Linked DNA regions of Homo sapiens: region 1 is linked to region 2. Evidence: fine-mapped expression QTL. Tissue or cell type: substantia nigra. Region 2 holds a variant in brackets; the other region holds the start of a gene. All regions are shown on one strand. Distances are between the middles of the regions.

Region 1 (9,311 bases), 34 kb after region 2:
TTATATATATCACAGCTATATCTCATTTATATCTCTGTGTGGAAACGCTGGATATTATAAATATCACAGCAGGATTTCAACTTTATTCCTGTGTGGGAACAGTGGATATTATAAATATCACAGCGATATTTCATTTATATCCCTTTGTGGAAACACTGGATATTTTAGTATTTCATTCATATCCCTATGTGGAAACACTGGATATTTTAATACTTCATTCATATCCCTGTTTGGAAACACTGGATATTTTAATATTTCATTCATAGCACAGTGCGGAAACACTGCGTAATATAATATTTCATTCATATCCCTGTGTGGAAACACTGAATATTATAATACTTCATTCGTAGCATAGTGTGGAAACACTGGATATTATAATATTTGATTCATAGCACAGTGTGGAAACACTGAATATTATTTCATTCATAGCACAGTTTGGAAACACTGCATAGTATAATATTTCATTCATTGCACAGTTTGGAAACACCGGATATTATAATATTTCATTCATAGCACGGTATGAAAACACTGGATAGTATAATATTTCATTCATAGCACAGTGTGGAAACACTGGATACTATATTTCATACATAGCACAGTGTGGAAACACTGTATATTATAAATGTAACAGCGATATTTCATTAATATCACAGTGTGAAACACTGGATGTCAGTAGTGATATCGATGATGTTACAAACATAACACAGTGTGTTAACACTGCATTATCACCCTGGATGTCAGTAGTAATATCATGGATATTATGAATAATATCACAGGGTGCTAACACAGTGTGTTCACACCCTGGATATCAGTAGTAACATCATAGACATTATGAATAATATCACAGGGTGTTAACACAATGTGTTAACATCTTGGGTATCAGTAGTGGATCAGTATCAGGATATCATCCTGGATATCACAGGGTGATATTATTCATAATATCATGGATATTAATTGTATTAACACCCTGGATATCAATAGTAATACACTGGATATTATGAATAATATCACCGTGTGTTAACAACAGTGGATATCAGTAGTAATATTGTGGATATTAGGAATAATATCACAGTGTGTTAACACAGTGTGTCAACACTGGATATTAGTGATATCATGAAAAATATCACAGTGTGTTAACACTGGACATTAGTAGTAATATCATGAATATTCTGAGTAATATAACAGTGTGTTAACACTGGATATTAGTATTAATATCTAATGTGTGTTAGTAATAATATCACAGATACTATGAATAGTATCACAGTGTGTTAACATAGTGTGTTAACACTGGATATCAGCATTAATATCATGGATATTATGAATAATATGGTATGATAACACAGTGTGCTAACAAACACTGGATATTATGAATATCATAGATAATATTAATATCACAGTGTGCTAACACTGGACACTATGAAGATCATAGATATTAATATCACATTTTGCTAACACAGTGTGCTAACACTGGATATTATGAATATCATATAAATTATTAATATCACAATGTGCTAACACTGTGTTAACACTGGATATTATTATCACGGTGTGCTAACACTGGATATTATTAATATCATTGATATTAACACAACACAGGGTGCAAACACTGGATATTATTATTAGCAAGTCACAGGGTGCTAATACTAGATTTTATTAATATCATATTATTATTAACACATCACAGGGTGCTAACACTTGATATTATTAATATCATAGACATTATTAACACAACACAGGGTGCTAACACTGGATATTTTTAGTATCATAGATATTATTAACATTGCAGTGTGCCAACATTGGAAATTATTAATGTCACAAATATTGGTAATAGCACAGTGTGCTAACACTGGATATTATTAATATCACAGATATTAGTAATATCACAGTGTGTTAATACAGTGTGCTAACACTGGATATCACTAATATGATAGATAATATAGATATTAGTAATATCACAGTGTGTTAACAGTGTGCTAACGCTGGATATTATTAATGTCACAAATATTAGTAATATCACAGTGTGCTAACACTGAATACTATGAATATCATAGATGTTAGTAATACCACAGTGTGCTAACACTGAATATCATTAACATTACAGATATTAGTAATATCACAGTGTGCTACTATTAATATAATAATGTTAATACTATTGACACTATATTAGTAATATAATAGTGTTAACACTGTTATTAATATGAGAGTTAATACTACTAACACTATATTTTTAATATGATAGTGTTAACACTACATTACTAATATGTGTTAACACTATATTATTAATATAATAATGTTAATACTATTAACACTATATTATTAATATAATGGTGTTAGCACTATATTATTAATATAATAGTGTTAACACTATATTATTATTATTATTTGAGACAGAGTCTTGCTCTGTCGCCCAGGCTGGAGTGCAGTGGTGCCATCTCTGCTCACTGCAAGCTCCGCCTCCCAGGTTCACACCATTCTCCTGCCTCAGTCTCCCGAGTAACTGGGACTACAGGCGCCCCCACCACGCCCGGCTAATTTTTTGTATTTTTTAGTAGAGACGGGGTTTCACCGTGTTAGACAGGATGGTCTCGATCTTCTGACCTCGTGATCCGCCTGCCTTGGCCTCCCAAAGGACTGGGATTACAGGCGTGAGCCACCGCGCCCGGCCTAACACTATATTATGAAACACTATATTATTATTATAGTGTAGATACTATTACATTATTAATAGTGTTAACACTATTATCATTAATATAATAGTGTTAATACTATTAACACTTTATTATTATTAATTATAATATTAATATACGAGTGTTATTAATTATTAATATAATTATAATACTGTTAACACTATATTATTAACAATTATTATTAATATAATAGTGTTATTAATATAATATGTGTTAACACTATAATAGTGTTAACACTATATTATATTGTTAATATTATAGTGTTAACACTATTATATGATTAATAGTGTTAATCATGTATTATTAATATAGCAGTGTTAATAGTAACCCTATATTATTAATACAATAGTGTTAATGCTATTAACGCTATATTATTAATATAAGTGTTAACACTCAACACTATATTACTAATATAATAGTGTTAATAGTATATCATTAATATAATAGTGTTAATACTATTAACACCATATTATTAATACTATTATTATTCCCATTTTACAGATTAGAAGCCCAGGACCCAGGAAGGAGACACAGGAAATTTATTCAAAGTCCCCACGCTGGTAATGGCAGAGCTAGGATTTGAATTCAGATCCCTCCCGCTCTCTGTTCCTCCGCCCCCACACACCCGTGAGCGAAGCCGGTACTGTGGGCAGACGCCAGGGCCTGGTTTCCCCACCCTCCACCCGCCAGGTTTGCGGTGGCCGGGGCGGCAGGTAGGGAGGTGAGCCCGCGTCTCCTCCGCAGAGCTGGAGCTGGAGCTCCGCTCAGAGGCCCAGGCTCAGTGGGCTCCTCCCCCGGGTCGGGGCAACCCCCCGCCGGGGCCTCTGGGGCCAACGGAAGCTCCAGGAGCGCGGTGGAGCCTGGAGTGGAGGGCGAGGGTCCCACCGTGACCCGCCTGGAGGGCAGCCCAGCTCTGGGACGCGAAACCGCCTACGACGGTGCCGCAGGTGGAGGGAAGGGTAGAGGGGAGACCAGTATGGGGGAGAGCAAGGTGGCCCCACAGGTTGGGAGAGGATGTGGGGAAGTCCCCCTACCCACCCAAGGCCGAACATCGCCTAACTGGCTGTGGGACGCCCGGGGCAGGGGCTGGGGGCGGATGGCCTGGTTAGGGCCCAGCTTGGGGTCTTGAAAATATCCCTATGGCTTTGGGGCCACAGAAGGGCGGAGTCCTGGCATTCAGGGGAAAGGGCCGAGGACGGTTGTCAACGGGAAGGAACCTCTGACCCTACCCTGGGTCAATGTGCAGTCCAAGTTGCCACAAATGACCGGAGGAAACAGTGGGAAGGGAAGGTCTCTTTCCCATTCCAAACCAGGATGCCCTTCAGGTCGCCCACTTCCTTCATCCCCAGAGCAGCTGCCGACTTTCCTGTTAAGTGCCAGGGCCTGGGAGGTGCGGGGCTGCAGCTCAGGCGCTGAAGGGGGCCTAGGGTCCAGGAACCTCCTGCCAAGCCAGTGGTCCTCAGACGCTGGTCCAGGCACCACCACGGGGTACACAGCTTTTCTTACCTCCTGGTGTTATGGGTCCTTTCTGTTTTTTGAGACGGAGTCTCGCTGTGGCTGTGTCGCCCAGGCTGGAGTGCAGTGGCACGATCTCGCCTCACTGCAAGCTCCGCCTCCCGGGTTCACGCCATTCTCCTGCCTCAGCCTCCTGAGTAGCTGGGACTACAGGCGCCCCCACCACGCCTGGCTAATTTTTTTTTTTTTTTTTTTTTTTGTATTTTTAGTAGAGACGGGGTTTCACCGTGTTAGCTAGGATGGTCTCGATCTCCTGATCTCGTGATCCACCTGCCTCGGCCTCCCAAAGTGCTGGGATTACAGGCGTGAGCCACCGCACCCGGCCCATGGGTCCTTTAAAAAATAATAATTTGGCCAGACGTGGGGCCTCATGCCTGTAATTTCAGCACTTTGGGAGGTAAAGGTGGGAGGATCACTTGAGCCCAGGGGTTGCCTGGGCAACATAGCAAGACCCCATCTCAAAAAAAAAATTAGCCAGGTGTAATGGCATACACCTGTAGTCCCAGCTACTCGGGAGGCTGAGGCAGGAGGATCGCTTGTGCCCAGGAGGCATGAATGCACCACTGCACTCCAGCCTGGGTGACACAAGACCCTGTCTCAAAAAAGAACAACAACAAAAATTTGAATAAAAACCAAACCAGTGACAGTAGATAAGTTGCTTTGTTTTTAATGCTCTTGGCAAAATAAAAAGTTGGCAGTCGTATATTCCCCCATTCTCTCTCTCTTTCTCACACATGCACATGCCTATAAGAAAGCATTCTCTGGATCCACAGAATTCCAGATTTGGGAATCACTGAATTGAACTGCCGGCCATTGGTGGCTGGTGAGACTGTCCTGGCAGTGATGCAGTATTCTGGTCCCTGTGCCAGCACTGATGGGCTGTGGAATCCTCCACCAGTCATTCCCTCTCTCCAGCTCTCCATCTCTGCTTCTGTACAAAAGGATCTACCAATCCCCTCTTATATTCAAATATCTATGACCTTTCAGTCTGGCCTATATCCGTGCGGATCTGAAGTTGTGTATCCGAAGATGTAACCTTGTCCAGTGCTGGCACTAAGGGCTGCTTCAGGGAGGGACCTGGACTGGTGCCCAGGGAAAGGAGGACAAGGTCCTCATCACTGGAGAGTGGAGGGGGCAGTGGGAATGGGACAGATAAGGGGTAGTGCCCTGGGGTATACCTGGCCCCAAAGTAACCCCGGGCTGTGAAGACAAAAGCACTGCATCACATGATGTGTTTCTGTGTCTCTCTCCCTAGCAGTTCCAAGAGCCTCTGAGTTCCTGCCTTTTTTCATCTCTGAATCCCCACCATTGGCCTACATTGGGAGTGGGGCGACCTGTAAGTGCACAGTGAATTTTTGCTGAGGGAGTGGCTGGGAGGGCTGCGTGGAGTGGACAGCACCAAGCTGCACTTTTCAGGGGAGTGGGGTTTGGAAAATCTGGGGAGCAGAACAGGCACCCCCGCCCCCAGGAAGGAACCCAGGTGTATTAGTCTGTTCTCATGCTGCTAATAAAGACATACCCAAGACTGGGTAACTTATAAAGGAAATAGGTTTAATTGACTCGCACCACATGGCTGCAGAGGCCTCACAATCATGGCTGAAGGCGAATGAAGAGCAGAGTCACATCTTTCATGGTGGCTGGCAGGAGAGAGCTTGAGCAGGGGAACTTCCACTTATAAAACCATCAGATCTTGTGAGACTTATTCACTACCACGAGAACCGTATGGGGGAAACTGCCCCCGTGATTCAATTATCTCCACCTGGCCCTGCTCTTGACACATGGGGATTATTACAATGCAAGGTGAGATTTGGGTGGGGACACAGCCAAACCAAATCACCAGGTACAGAGGCCAGAGGAGCCTGGGGATGACGGTGATGTTCCAGGTGTGGAGGGAGACGTGGCAGGCGTGGGGACAGGAAGGTTGGAAGGTTGGGGAACTTTATGAAGGGAAAACTGAGAAGATGAGGAAGGCTGATGAGATGGAAGTGGGGTTGGGGAGAGGGAAGAACCAGCATGAGCTCAAGGCTAGGGTTTGGGTGAAGGAGAGAAAAAAAGGTAGAAAATAAAGGAGACAGAGATCACTTCTAGTCACATACAGGTGGAGATGGGGTAGACAGGAAGAGGTGCCCCCTATCAAATGAGAATGCCCAGTGTACTCCCATCTATACAGAGGACAGGATCAAGATGCAGCCATGACTCCTTCCCATTGAGTTCTAATACTAGAAGGATGCCTCAATGCCCTCTGGTCCAACAGACTTCATCATTTTAGATAGAAGGAAGTGGAAGCCCTGAGGTTGGGGTGACTTGTATGACCTGGAGAGTGGATGGGAGATGGAAAGGGGACATTTAAAGAGAGGGAAGGGCTGGGTGTGGTGGTTCAAGCCTGTAATCCCAACTCTTTGGGAGGCCAAGGCAGGAAGATCACTTAAGCTCAGGAGTTTAAGACACCCTGGGCAACATAGTTAGACCCCTGTCTCTACAAAAAATTAAAAAATTAGCTGGGCGTGGTGGCACGCACCTGTAGTCCCAGCTACTCAGGAGGCTGAGGTGGGAGGATCACTTGTGCCCAGGAGGTTTAGCCTGGGTGACAGAGTGAGACCCTGTATCTAAAAACAAAATATAATAAGGAAAGAAGGGAATAATTCAATTTTTCAAGTGGGAAGAAGAGAAACTAGAGAATGTCAGAAAGGAAGAGAAAGTACAAACATTTTCAAGTCACTCTGACAGCATCGAAGATGAACATGTGTTTACCTGTTTATAACCAGGGTACTTGGGTGTGGGGGGTACAGGAAGGGAGCCACACCTCTGCCCTCTGCCATTAGGCTTGTTCAGCCATAGCCATTGGTAGCTCTCAGAGACGCCCCCTTCCCTGGCTGCAGCAAGTGTCTGCATGGGCAAAGACGCCCCCTTCCCTGGCTGCAGTGAGGGTCTGCATGGGGATTGGGTAGAGGCCCCAGTGTCTGCACTGGGCAAGGTTTGCACAGGGTGTGGGAGCAGGGGAGGAAAGCATGCTCACTTCGAGGGCCTTGTGCTCTCTACTGCCCAGGCACAGCTTGAAAACCGTGATGCTGCCAAGCCCAGCCTGGCACAGGCAAGGGTCCCCAGGTCTGGCTTTGGGTAGGACTTGGAAAGAAAGACTGTCATCTTGGGGTGCACCTCCCTTGTCACATCTTCCTTTCACCTGATGCCCCCTTTCTGCACTGCCAGGTAGCGAGGGTCATCACAGTGCCACCTGGAGGCCTCTGGCCAGGCCCACCCTCCCTGCAGCTCCAATCACCGTCCCTGCTTCCTTCCTTCCCATTGCTGGATAACTCTCATTCCTCAGAGCTGCCAGGCTCAGCACAGACAGAGGGGAAAGCAGATTCGTTGAAACAATTTGTCCTGAAGTTGGGTGTGGCCTCCAGCCCCTTCTCCCACAGGGATATCTGAATTTTAGAAGTCTGCCCTCCATCCCTGCCCTCCCAACTTTAACCAAGCACCTGAGTGCTCAGCACTGTGTTGGACACTTTGGTATGCGTTATTTCATTTGGTCCTCTCAGTGGCAGGTGTTGTATTCTTATCATTGGGCAGGTGTTATAATATATCCTTCCTTATCCTTAGGCAGGTGTTATATCCTTCCTTTTCCAGATGGGGAAAGCAAGGTCCTGAGACTCTGAGCAACTTCCCCAAGATCACACAGCTAGGAAGTGATGAAGCTGAGACAAGACCAGCCAGCACTTACCCACCACGGTGTAACTACTCATTCAAAAGATGACATCTTTTGAAAATTTTTATTCTTTCAGAGACAAGGTCTTGCTTTGTTGCCCAGGCTGGAGTACGGCGGCATGATCATAGCTCACTGCAGTCTCTAACTCCTGGGCTCAAGAGTTCCTCCTGCCTCATCCTCCCAAGTAGCTGGGAACTACAGACAGGCACATGCCCCCAGCCTGGCTAATTTTTAACAATTTCTTGTGGAGACTGGTCTGACTGTGTTGCCTAGGCTGGTCTCAAAACTCCTGAGTTCATGCGATCCTCCCACCACAGCCTTCCAAAATGCTGGGATTATAGGCATGAGCCACCAGTGACTGGCCACAAAAGGAGACATCTTAGTGACAGATGGTGATGAAAGAGAAGATGGGTTTGGGGGAGGAACTCCACGTGATAGGGATCCTTCACTGAGGGCCCAGGCTGCAGGAGGCTCTATGAAACACCAGAACTCTTTGTAAAACTTCCTGTTTGTACATGACCTGCTCATTTCTCAGCAGGGGCTCCTCCTGTGCACATGGACCTCTCCCCACCTAAACCCACAGTTCCTGTGGTCAGAAGGCCAGTCACTGAATAAGGGCACCTAAGGCTCTGGTCTGAATATCTCCCCTTGGTTCTCAGTCTGAAATCCCAAAAGGAAGACAGTTGACTGCAAAATAGGCTGGAGTTGTCCTGATGGCCAGTAGAGGTGGCTGTTGATAGAATTGAAAGCTTAGGGCCAGGCATGGTGGCTCACACCTGCAGTCCCAGCACCTTGGGAGGCTGAGGCGGGTGGATCACCTGAGGTCAGGAGTTCGAGACCAGCCTGGCCAACATGGTGAAACGCTGTCTCTACTAAAAATACAAAAATTAGCTGGGCGTGGTGGCGGGCGCCTGTAATCTCAGCTACTCAGGAGGCTGAGGCAGGAGTATTGCTGGAACCTGGGAGGCAGAGGTTGCAGTGAGCTGAGATGGTGCCATTGCACTCCAGCCTGGGCTGACAACAGCGAGACTCCATCTTAAAAAAAAAAAAAAAGAATTGAAAGCTTAGAACTTTAGTTTTTTTCTTTTTTTTAAATTATTTAATTTTTTTTTTTGTTTTTTTTTGAGACAAGGTCTTGCTCTGTCACCCAGGCTGGAGGGCAGTGGTGTGATCATGGTTCACTGCAGCCTTGACCTTCCTGGGCTTAGGCGATCCTCTCACCTCAGGCTTCTGAGTAGCTGGGACTACAGGTGTGCAACACCATGCCTGGCTAATTTTTGGTAGAGACGGGGTTTCGCCATGTTGCCCAGGCTGGTCTTGAACTTCTGGACTCAAGCGATCCGCCTGTCTCAGCCTCCTAAAGTAGTGGGATTGCAGGTGTGAACCACCGCACCCAGCTGAAA
Region 2 (11,832 bases):
TAAAGTTTCCACAGAAAGCTTTACACTATTAAATTGTACCGTGTTAATTTTTTTAATGCCACAAATTCCAAATTAGAGACTCTTCTATGATTTGGTTCTTAAGTATTTAAAGCTGAAGCATATCCATATTTCTTTTTCTTTTTTTTCTTTTTTTTTTTTTTGGGACGGAGTCTCACTGTGTTGCCCAGGTTGGAGTGCAGTGGTGCAATCTTGGCTCACTGCCACGTATGCCTTCTGTATTCAAGCAATTCTCCTGCCTCAGCCTCCCGAATAGCTGGGATTACAGACCCGCACCACCACGCTGGCTAATTTTTGTATTTTTAGTAGAGAAGAAGTTGCACCATGTTGATCAGGCTGGTCTTGAACTCCTGACCTCAAGTGATCTTCCCGCCTCAGCCTCCCAAAGTGCTGGGATTACAGGCCACTGCGCCTGGCCCCATTTTTCTGTTACTTATTTAGGGTGGTTAATCATTATCAACTAATTTTTATTGAATATCCATAGTGTGTAAGATCCTTTGCAAAGTCCTGACGATATAAAATGATGAAATGCTTTAACTTATTACAGTAATTTCTCTTAATCTTACCTTGCAGTGATGGTCATTGTCCTCCAGAGCAGTGATGGAGGAAATACCAGCCCAGGAAGCAGCAGGGTCACCAAGGGTCCAGTTTCAGTCTTTGGAGACCCAGTCTGAGTGTCTGTCCCCAGAGCCTCAGTTTGTGCAGGACACCGACATGGAACAGGGACTCACTGGGGGTAAGGCAGAGAAAGCACTTCCGTCTGGGAGAGTGGGAGTGCGGAGGGGCTCCCGAGGGGGCTCCTGGGCCTGGTTTGAGAGAGGCCAAGAACTGGAATAAGAACATGGTCCCTAGAGGGAGGAATGAAAGAGGGGGCAGATGTGACTCAGTTCAGTCCTAGTCTGAGCCCCTTTATTAAGGATAGCTCATCTTTCTCAAATAAGCAGAGTGATGGCTGCTTACTCGCTGTGGTGGTTTTTCCTTCAGGCAACCTTCACTTCATCCCAGTTCTCACATCCAGAATAATTTCTAAGATATGCTGCTTTTGCCACATCTCACAGTCCTTTCCTGGCTCTCACTTCCTCTTAGGTTCAGGACCTTTCTTTCCCCTGTTCCCTTCACTTAGTTTTTCTTTGCTTTGTCACCTGCCATCCATTCTGTTGTAACTGCAGTGTTTTGTGACTAGACTAAATTTGGTCAAGGAAGCAACCATTTAATTCCTTGGTTGAACACAATGCCTGTATGAATGTATATATACTGTATTTTGACTACGCAGTCACACTTTGCTGTATCGTATAGGTAGGTTGGTCTTTTTCTTCCTTTGTTTTATAAGAGCTGTGTCTTAGATTGCCTGTGGTTAACTCTAGTGCCTGAAATAACTTGTGTGTCACCCACACAGATCAAGTGCCACAATGTGTAGAGTGCTGTGGGGGATTGTGGGACTGTGGAAAAGATTTCGAGGAAACAGATGACCCTTTCTTGTTCTTGGGGGCCTTACACACTGGTTGAGACAGCACCCATTCACAAGAGAAACGCTGATCAAGTGTCTAGAACAGTGCCTGGAAAGGGTCAGAAGTCTGCTAAATAACCCTAGCCCAGGACAAGTCCCCACAAGTCTTTATGCTTTGCTTTGCCCATCTGCAAAACAGGTATAGTCTTACTCTTCTGTAAGAGGACTGTCATGTGATGAAGATAAAGTGAAATACAAGCTTTCCTAAGAAAATCCTGTATCACAGGTCAAAACACGCATAAGGCATGCAAGTACTGAGACGAAGCAGAGTAGACACACCCAATACCTGAAAAATGTTCATTGGTTTTACTAGAGTATTGAGGAGGGTCCTGCTGACACCCCTTGGGCTGGAGAGGCCTCCTCTGAAAGGGAGCCCTGGGAAAGGGCTGCTCTCACTCTTCACTCCTTTCTCCTCCCTCAGCTCCACCTGTTCCTCAGGTGCCTGCTCTTCCCCGTGAGGGAAGCCCAGGAGACCAGGCAGCTGCGCTCTTGACAGCCAGGTACCAGGTGAGCTGAGGAACCCTCTGCTTTTCCTCAGGGACTATTGCTACTGATGGAGTGTGGCCTCTCTCTCATCCCATCTGTAGACCTTGCCTGGAATTTTTTTCAATAGCAGACTCCAGTTTGGGAATTGATCCTCTTCGGAGACCTGGACTTCACATAAACCAACTTCCCATCTCCCCAGTGCCATGAGCAAACTCTGTTTTCTCTTTGTCCATGGTTGTGTGATGGGTGCTTATTAGATGTTTAAGGGTTATGGGCTTTATTCCGTAGGTTCTAATCTGTTCTCCCTCCTCCTCAACGTAAGTACACAGTGGATACCCTCTCTATGATCTTCATTCTCTGGCCATGGTGCTACAGTGTTCTCATTCCTCAGAGCAGCCAGGATGTGTTATTTCAGGAGTTTGTGACATTCGAGGATGTGGCTGTGCACCTTACTCGAGAGGAATGGGGATACCTGGACCCTGTTCAGAGGGACCTCTACAGAGAAGTGATGTTAGAGAATTATGGGAACGTGGTCTCACTGGGTAAGGACTTCCTTATTATTCGGTTTATCTATTTGAATTTCTTTACTTTCTTGTTTCTTCCTAAGTATAAGGTCTCTGAGAAGGTCTGTAGAGTGTGGCTTAGATTCCAGGACTTAGAACCTCTGAATCCTTATCTTTCACATCGTCTTCTCCGGGAGGGGTAATTAACGTTTGTTTGGGGGTGCCAAGAAGAGACATTCTCCTCCTTATCCCCAGTTCATGTTTATGGCCATTGTGGGGCATCTTTTCCCTTTTAGCAAAGGGAAACTTTCTTGTGCTTTGCTTGATTTCTCACCGTTCTTTTCTTTTCCATTTTTGTAGGAGAGACCCCAGGGTGGCCTCCCAACCTCCAACCAGACACTTTCCTCTTTGTTATCTCAGTGTCCCTGTATTAGAGAATTGAAGAATTTCCCATTTTTCTAGGAAAAAGAAATGCCGTTTATTTAAAAAGACAGGCTAAATTCCTTCTTGTTGAGTAGTCCCTCACCCCTTAAGATCCCCAGATGTATCTCCAAGCAGGCAGAACTTGAGATGTCATTTGAAGGCATGACTCACTGTGAGTACATTTCAGTGAGTCACCCAGAATGGTAATCCCACGTAACCACACCCAGGGCAGCAGAAATCTCAGATGTTTACCCCATGCTGAGGTGGGGTCAATGCTTAACTCATGTCTCTCCCTTGTCATTTTGAAAGGTACAGTGGGAAGCTGGGATTAGCCAAGCTGTAGTGCTGCTGGGAAGCATCAGTGGGGTTTGTCGGCAGCTCCCTTGGTGTGAGCATTGTTCCTTTTTCTTTAGTTTATTTTTTATATTATATTATATTTTTTATTTTATTTTATTTTTAGATGGAGTTTCACTCTTGTTGCCCAGGCTGGAGTGCAGTGGTGCAATCTCAACTCACTACAACCTCTGCCTTCCAGGTTCAAGCGATTCTCCTGCCTCAGCCTCCCAAGTAGCTGGGATTACAGGCATGGGCCACCACGCCCGCCTAATTTTGTATTTTTAGTAGAGACGGGGTTTCACCATGCTGGTCAGGCTGATCTCGAACTCTTGACCTCAAGTGATCCACCTTCCTTGGCCTCCCAAAGTGCTGGAATTACAGGCATGAGCCACCGCACCCAGCCTCCTTTTTCTTTAGTTTCTTGCTTGCTTCTGCACTCTTCTTTTTGTGTGTGTAAATACTGAATCATGCATTTTCTTTTCTTTTTTTTTTTTCCGTTGGCTTTGTCTATGCTGGTGGCATCCAGGGCATTGCTTTGTCTCCCTGATTATGCTCAGGATTCAAGGTCTTCTTATTTGTGGGGAGGCAGGCTGCCCACTGGGACGGTTTTTAGTGTGTTTTCCATTCCTGGCTCTTTAATCTTTGTAGGCATACTTCTCCGCCTTCCCACCACCCGGATTCATAGTGTGAATTCCTGCCCGGCCCTGAGTCATACCCAGGCAAGTGCTTTCTCTGGAGAAACACTTGCCGTCCTTACAGCAGGAATCTCCAAGAGATGGCCCAAGTATCGGCTTCCCATCGATATTGCTCGTCCCTGCTCGGAAACTCCTTTTCCACGATTGTGAGATATTAAAATTGACTGATGGAATAGAAGCTCCCCAGGATGCCACCACTGTGTAAAATCGCAGCTCCTCAAATTACCTCTGTTTAATTTCAAATGTTAGGGTCCAAGGAAGCCCTCTGTTGCAACCAGATATGTTTTGAACCCAGTTCATTCAGAAACCATGGTTGGTGGTCATCATCTACTTGTATTGTGAAAAACCAGAAATTCCAAATTCAGCTCTTCAGTTATGGTCTTTTCATATTATTTTAGAATGTGAAACTTATGCTGTGTGCCCCTCCTTTTATGTGGCGAACACAACCTGCCCCGTATGGTGCCTAACTCTCCTGTGAACCCTGGGCTTCCCTCATGTTTAACATTCTGGTTTCCTCCTTCCTTGAAGTCCCTGTGGCCCTCTTCAAGGTCCTACCTTCCTACCCTTTATTCTTTGTGGTTCTGTACAGATTGATGCAATTATATTGCCTTTCCTGATTAAGTGTTCCTTACTCTGTCCTTGATGGAGGGGAGAAGGGAGGGCAAAGAAGTTAAATTTATTTCAGGGCATCAAATTGAATATCTACTTAATAACTTTGTAAACTGTAAAGTGACATACATATAATTGTAAAGTACTGTTAATTTTATCTAATAATTACAGAGTTTCCAACAGTTAACCTGTCTACTTTTTGGAGTAAAGAAACTTTGTAGCAGTTTAATGCAGTCTAATAGCATAGTATGCTATAGACTGAACTTTATCCCATTTCCTCTCTTATCTCTGCACTGCACACTCGACATGCAGTCGACATGCATACACACTTTTACACATACAAGAGACACGCACAGTGCAAGAAAGCCTTCTACTCATCTTGCTTTTGTGATCAAGTTAGCAGCATCTCCTTAGCAGTTATTTTTACAATCCTTGGGAAATCATTTTCATATTTTTGGGTTCAGCAGACTTCATCTGAAAATTAACCCATTTATGCCTAGTGTTCCATTATTGGAACACTAAGCTTGCGGGAATTATTTATGTCC[C/T]GCTGCTCAAGGTCATCGCCAAGGTCTGATTTTTAACAAAAATTGCAACCTCCAGCATAACTGGGTTAAGTTTATACATTTATTAATTTAACTTTTTAGGGTTGTAAGACTTTTTTTTTTTTTGAGACGGAGTCTTGCTCTGTTGCCCAGGCTGGAGTGCAGTGGCACCATCTCTGCTCACCGCAAGCTCCACCTCCCGGCTTCATGCCATTCTCCTGCCTCAGCCTCCCAAGTAGCTGGGACTACAGATGCTCGCCACCATGCCTGGCTAATCTTTTCGTATTTTTAGTAGAGATGGGGTTTTGCCATCTTAGCCAGGATGGTCTCGATCTCCTGACCTCGTGATCCGCCTGTCTCGGCCTCCCAAAGTGCTGGGATTACAGGTTGTGAGCCACTGCGCCTGGCCTCCAGATTGTATTTGTCACAGACATTAGAACGTTGGTCCTTTGCTTAAGTGCTTCCACTATGCAGCAGTAAATATACAGAGTACAAATAGCTGAGTAAAGAAGTCGGTAATAAGTAATTTTCGTTACCACATAATTGAAAAAAGAACATACTCCATTGATGATGAATGAACAATTTGCCTCTGGGTCACTATCCATAGGGAAGTTACCTGTTACTTAGTGTGGTAGATTAAGACCCATAAAGGGGACCGAGTTGCTTTTCACATGGGTAAGTGTGGCAGGTGCCCTATTAGATGATGGCCTCAGAAGCATGCTTGTTAAAATTCTAATTGATATTAACTGGGTCAGTAGATTGGGAATGTTTGGCACATACTCTCTGCTTTTTTAACTTGATGTCATGAAGGACTACAGTTATTTTGCACAGAATGTTTTCCATTGTCACAGCTATTTAGTATTTATTGAGCAGCCAATATGTTATTGGGTACTATATATATGTATGTATACACACACACACACATATGTATATACACACACACAGACATAGGACATTTATATGTGTGTGTGTGTGTGTGTGTATATATATATATAAAGGATATGTGTATATATCTCATTTAATCCTTACCATAACCCTGTGAGCAGATGACACTGCTCCTATTTTATATCTGAGGAAACTGAGGCTCAGAGAAGTTAAGTGATCTTTGCAGGATCAGTGAGAGGCTTGGGACCCAGATCTGCCTCTGAAGCCCCTGCACTTTTTCACTACTTTGTGCCCTTAGGACAATAAGTTCAACTACACATGGAGTTTTTAATATTTTTAGTGAGTTGTGTGTACTCTGATGACAAGAAAAATTCAAAATGCCATGACAAATTGGACAGACAGGCCAGTATATAGTTTGGGACCAGAAAGGACATGCATTCAAAAAGTAAAACTCTCTAGGGACACATTCCAGTCCAACAGGTATCTACAAAAGAATGATATTGCTAAGGAGAGATATTATTTGTGTATTAAGGACCAGGAAGAAAAGCGTGAAGCTTTCAGATGGCTAAAAGCATAGCCGTAGTAAAAGCAGCAAACCATATGATAAGGCAAATTTTAAATATTATTTTTGAGGCAGGGTCCCCTCTTGTTGCCCAGGCTAGAATACAGTGGCATGATAACAGCTCACTGCAGCCTGGACTTCCCTCCAGGCTCAGGTGATCCTCCTACCTCAGCCTTCTGGGTAGCTGGGACTATAGGCCTGTACCATCATGCTAATTTTTTTCTATTTTTAGTAAAGAAGGTGTTTCGCTATGTTACCCAGGCTGTTGAACTCCTGGGCTCAAGTGATCTGCATGCCTCAGCTCCCCAGAGTCCTGGGATTACACATGTGAGCCAACACCATGCTCAGCTTTAACTGTTATTTTTGAAGACCAGATTAAAATAAATTTTATTAGAAAACTCTCAAGATTTAAATAAAATAATTTTTTTTTTGGAGACAGTCTTGCTCTGTCGCTCAGGCTGGAGTGTGGTGGCACAATGTCAGCTCACTGCAACCTCCGCCTCTCAGGCCCAAGCCATTCTTGTGCCTCAGCCTCCAGAGTAGCTGGGACTACAGGCATGCACCACCATACCCAGCTAATTTTTGTATTTTTAGTAGAGATGGGGTTTTGCCATGTTGGCCAGGCTGGTCTTGAACTCTTGGCCTCATGTGTTCCACATCCAGCCTTAAAATCAAAAGGTTTTAATAACTTAATTTTAAACGGAAAAAATGTAAAGCAAGTGCATATTTTGAAAGCATAGAGTCGGCCAGGTGCTGTGGCTCACACATGTAATCCCAGCACTTTGGGAGGCCAAGGCAGGCGGATCACCTGAGGTTGGGAGTTCGAGACCAGCCTGACCAACATGGAGAAACCCCGTCTCTACTAAAAATACAAAATTAGCCGGGCATGGTGGCGCATGCCTGTAATCCCAGCTACTCTGGAGGCTGAGGCAGGAGAATCACTTGAACCCAGGAGGTGGAGTTGAGGTGAGCCGAGATCGTGCCATTGCACTCCAGCCTGGGTGACAGAGTGCAACTCCGTCTCAAAAAAAAAAAAAAAGCATTCACGTCAATGTCAAGAGAACCTGCTACTAATGCTTTCTTTGATAGGCAGTATGATAGGTTGGAAAGAATATAAACTGGGATCAAGCTTGGGTTCCACTTACCAGCTGTAGTATGTTGAGCAAATTATTTAATCTGACACTCATTTTCTTGGTTTATAAAACATGAAAAATAATGTCTACCTTCTGGGTACAGGATTGAATTAGATTATGCATATAAGTACCTGGCTTGTGTCGGGTGCGGTGGCTCACGCCTGTAATCCAGCACTTTGGGAGGGTGAGGTGGGCGGATCACAAGGTCAGGAGTTCGAGACCAGCCTGACCAACATGGTGAAACCCCGTCTCTACTAAAAATACAAAAATTAGCTGGGCATGGTGGTACATGCCTGTGATTGCAGCTACCCAGGAGGCTGAGGCTGGAGAATCGCTTGAACCCGGGAGGTGGAGGTTGCAGTGAGCCAAGATCATGCCATTGCACTCCAGCCTGGGCGACAGAGCGAGACTCCATACCCCCCGGCCAAAAAAAAAAAAAAAAAATTAAGTACCTGCCTTGTGCTAGTTACTTTAATATTTTGGAAAGAATAGCAAGCGATATGAGCCATAGACCAGATTTTTTAATACAAATAAAAATTTCAGGAGTGTGTTCAAATTATTTATTTATAGTGGAGTTTCCTCAAATTTATTATTGTTTGGACTATTGTCTAGGGATTTGGATTTTTTTTTTTTTTTTTGAAATGGAGTCTCCCAGGCTGGAGTGTAGTGGCGTGATCTCGGCTCACTGCAACCTCTGCCTCCCGGGTTCAAGCGATTCTCCTTCCTCAGTCTCTCGAGTGGCTGGGACTACAGGCACCCGCCATCACGCCCGGCTAATTTTTGGTATTTTTAGTAGAGACAGGGTTTCACCGTGTTAGCCAGGATGGTCTCGATCTCCTGACCTTGTGATCTGCCTGCCTTGGCCTCCCAAAGTGCTAGGATTACAGGCGCGAGCCACCGTGCCTGGCTGGGGTTTGGATTTTTATTGTAAAGGATTTCCATTTCCTTGATAATAAATCATCTTTTAGATCCCTTTTAATTTTTAATTTTAATTTTTTGTAGAGATGGAGTCTCACTATGTTCCCCAAGCAGGTCTCAAATTCCTGAGCTCATGAGATCCTCCTGCCTTGACCTCTCAAAGTGCTGGGATTACACGTGTGAGCCACCATGCCTGGTCCATAGATCCTCTTGATTCGTTTGTTGGTTGATTGACTGACTGACTGACTGACAGGATCTCACTCTCACCCAGGCTGGAGTACAGTGGTGTGATCTTGGCTCTCTGCAGCCTCGGCCTTCTGAGCTCAAGCGATCATTCTGCCTCTGCCTCCCAAGTAGCTGGGACTACAGGCGTGTGCCACCATGCCTGGCTAATTTTTGTATTTTTTGTAGAGGTGGGATCTCACTATGTTGCCCAGGCTGGTCTCAGACTCTTGGGCTGAAGTGATCTGTCCGTCATGGCCTCCCAAAGTGCTGGGATTACAGGTGTGAGCTTCTGTGCCCAGCCATAGATCCCTTTTAATTAACACTTCTGCGACTCCAATTATTTAGGATCCTGGTTCACCGTATGTTATTCTAATCACTTTTTCTCTGTTGTTTGTATTTACCTTTTACTTCACTGTCAATATTTTATAAATCATATTAGAAAACTCAAGATTTAAATAAAATCAAAAAGTTTTAATACATTAATTTTAAACAGGAAAAATGTAAATAAAGCAAGTGCATATTTTGAAAGCAAAGTTTTGAGTTAAATTTAGGAAATAGGCATTTAGGCTAGTGCCAAGAAAACTTACACGTTCTTTCTGTGTGTAATTTGGAGGAAGGGATGGATTTTGTTCACAGTCATTATTTATTTTTTTTCAGGGCTTGTTAGGAGGCAAAATCATAATTTTTTTTTTACTAGCAGATTGTTTAAAGGCTAGGTTCTGAAATAAGACTGTGCAGGTTTGAAAACTAAGCATTACCAGTTATTGTAACCTTGGGCAAGCTACTTAACCACTCTGAATCTTAGTATTCCCATCTGTAAAATGGCTATAATAATAGTTTCTACGTTTTAAATTTATGGTATTAAATGAGTGAAAACCTAGAGAGCTCTTGGCATGGTACTTTGCACCTACCAAGTACTTAGTAAAACTTAATAATATTTTGATGGTACTGATGATACCCTGTTCTCTCTTCTAAACTGTGATATTGTATCTTTACCTGCTAGGCATTTTCTCTTTTAAAAAAAATTATTTCAGTAGTTTTGGGGGCGTACAAGTGGTTTTTTGTTACATGGATGAATTCTAATACATAGTGGTGAATTCTGAGATTTTAGTGCACCTGTCACTGGAATAGTGTACATTGTACCTAATATATAGTTTTTTATCCCTTGTCCCTTCTCCCACCCTTTCCCTTCTTAGTCTCTGAAGTCCATTTTATCACTCTGTATGCCTTTGCGTACTCATCTGCTGGGCATTTTCTCTTATACCTTCGTACATTACATTAAACACACATCTAAAATCAAACCCCTCATCCCACATGAAGACCACCTTTTTTGTTGTGCATATGTGTTTTAAGTGTAGATATGGAGTAAGCAGCCAGAATTTATTTCAGTTACCAAATATCGACAGACACTTTAAATATCTCAGAGTTAAAAGTTGCAAATTATGTTATTGGAATTCTGAGAACAATATTGATTGCTGCTTCATGTTACACTAACTTTACTTTTTAAACTTCTGAAACGATTTCATTTGACAGGGTGGACCTTAATTAAATATATGTCCACAAGGAGAGTTGACTCTAAATGTCCCACAGGATTTCAGAAACACAGTAAATACCTTTCTTCTATCTATTCTGATCTCCTTGCTCATAGGCTCTCACATGGAATCTTTGGGGCAGCTGTCAGTTCTTCATATTTTCCAGCCCCAATGCCCTTTTTATAAAATTGGGTAGCTGTTAATACATTGATACTTGGGCGCACAGAGTTGGCACTCAATAAGTAGCCGTTAAGTAAATTAATCAAAAGAATTGCAAGATACAAGATACCTGGTCCCTTCTATCAAAGAGTTTATAAATCAAGTATGAATGACAATACCTGAAACCACTTAAAAAAAAATCTATGTAAACACCGTTATATGTGACATGTCAGGATAAGAGGGAACAACTAATAAATTTTGTACACATTCAGTAAATGGAGAGAAAGGTTTTTGGAGATGAGGGGCTTGAGCCAGACCTTGTATGTGTGCTATTAGAAGCTTTCTGGGCTGGACACATTTAAAAACTGCCCTTTGATACTAATAGTATTAAAATTCTGTCTCCTTGGAAGCAGACTGCCTGTTGCTTTAGCTTTAAAAGAGATTTATATCCAAGCATTGCATTATGCAAGCCATAGAAAGACTGTTTTATGTGAAGATGCACTGATTGCACTTCCCTCTCTATATTTTATTGTAGTTAGTTGTTTAGAGCTGTCTCTGTGTAGAGTGTGAGGTCCTTGAGGGAAGGGACCTTCTTGGCCTCTTATCCCCTGCATACTTTGCATAGAGGAGGCACTTCATAAATGTTTGTTGAATAAATGCTACACTCCTAATGGGTAAGAATGTGTCATATTACTCTTTGTTTTCTTATGTGTACTGAAACAAATTGTTTCTTGAGATTGGTCCTTAGAATATTTATTCAGTTTTCACTGATTCTCTTGCTACAGGTTAGCTAACCATGCAGCAGGTGCTTGAGTTTCACCTTTCTCCAGTCCAGCAGAATTACATTTTGATGACCTCCATTTTGATACTTGTAGACCAGATCTAATCCGAAGATTAATCTTTAGGTAACAGATGGAGAGTGATAATGATAACTTCTGTGAAGACAAACCCATGCACACATTCTGTTGTCTGAATAATATTTAAATGAATCCTTCTGCTCCCAAGTCATCAACTTGCCCCTTAACACACATCCCTCTAGAGCACAAATCTGAGCTCCTTGTAGATCTTTGCCCTCTTCACTCTCCAGACCTTCCTAATTAATGTCTTCTCAGAATCGACCTTCTGTCTCTCTTAATCATTAGTTAAAAGAAAAAGTGGCAGATGTAGGACCTGGGGATACATTGCCACATCCCATTTCCTTCTCTATGAGCAGGATTTCCAATTTCCAAGCCTGATGGGATCTCCCAGCTGGAACAGGATCTACAGGTCTTTGATCTGGAAACTAAGACTAGAGAAGTC

Alleles and levels. Positions count from the first base shown, and alleles are read on the strand shown. Sizes are in standard deviations (SD) of each study's normalised expression.
For the expression in substantia nigra of the gene that starts at base 3,520 in region 1, allele T in region 2 goes with a lower level than allele C (moderate effect, 0.58 SD a copy in GTEx).

What was found. PIP is the estimated chance that this variant, and not a neighbour inherited with it, causes the effect.
Region 1: it holds the start of TMEM225B, and the variant in region 2 is the best candidate, but not a certain one, in a credible set for the expression of TMEM225B in substantia nigra (GTEx, PIP 0.73).

Annotation. Positions count from the first base shown.
Region 1 is chr7:99,594,748-99,604,058 of GRCh38, forward strand. TMEM225B (transmembrane protein 225B) reads left to right here and starts at 3,520. Exons shown (of 6, transcript NM_001195541.3): 1 at 3,520-3,634; 2 at 5,458-5,538.
Region 2 is chr7:99,559,942-99,571,773 of GRCh38, forward strand. It overlaps ZNF655 (zinc finger protein 655), which reads left to right. Exons shown (of 3, transcript NM_138494.3): 2 at 592-754. The coding sequence starts at 619. Among named protein-coding and RNA genes, the nearest start is that of ZNF655, 7.2 kb to the left of the region's middle. The variant C/T (reference allele first, on the strand shown) is at 5,123.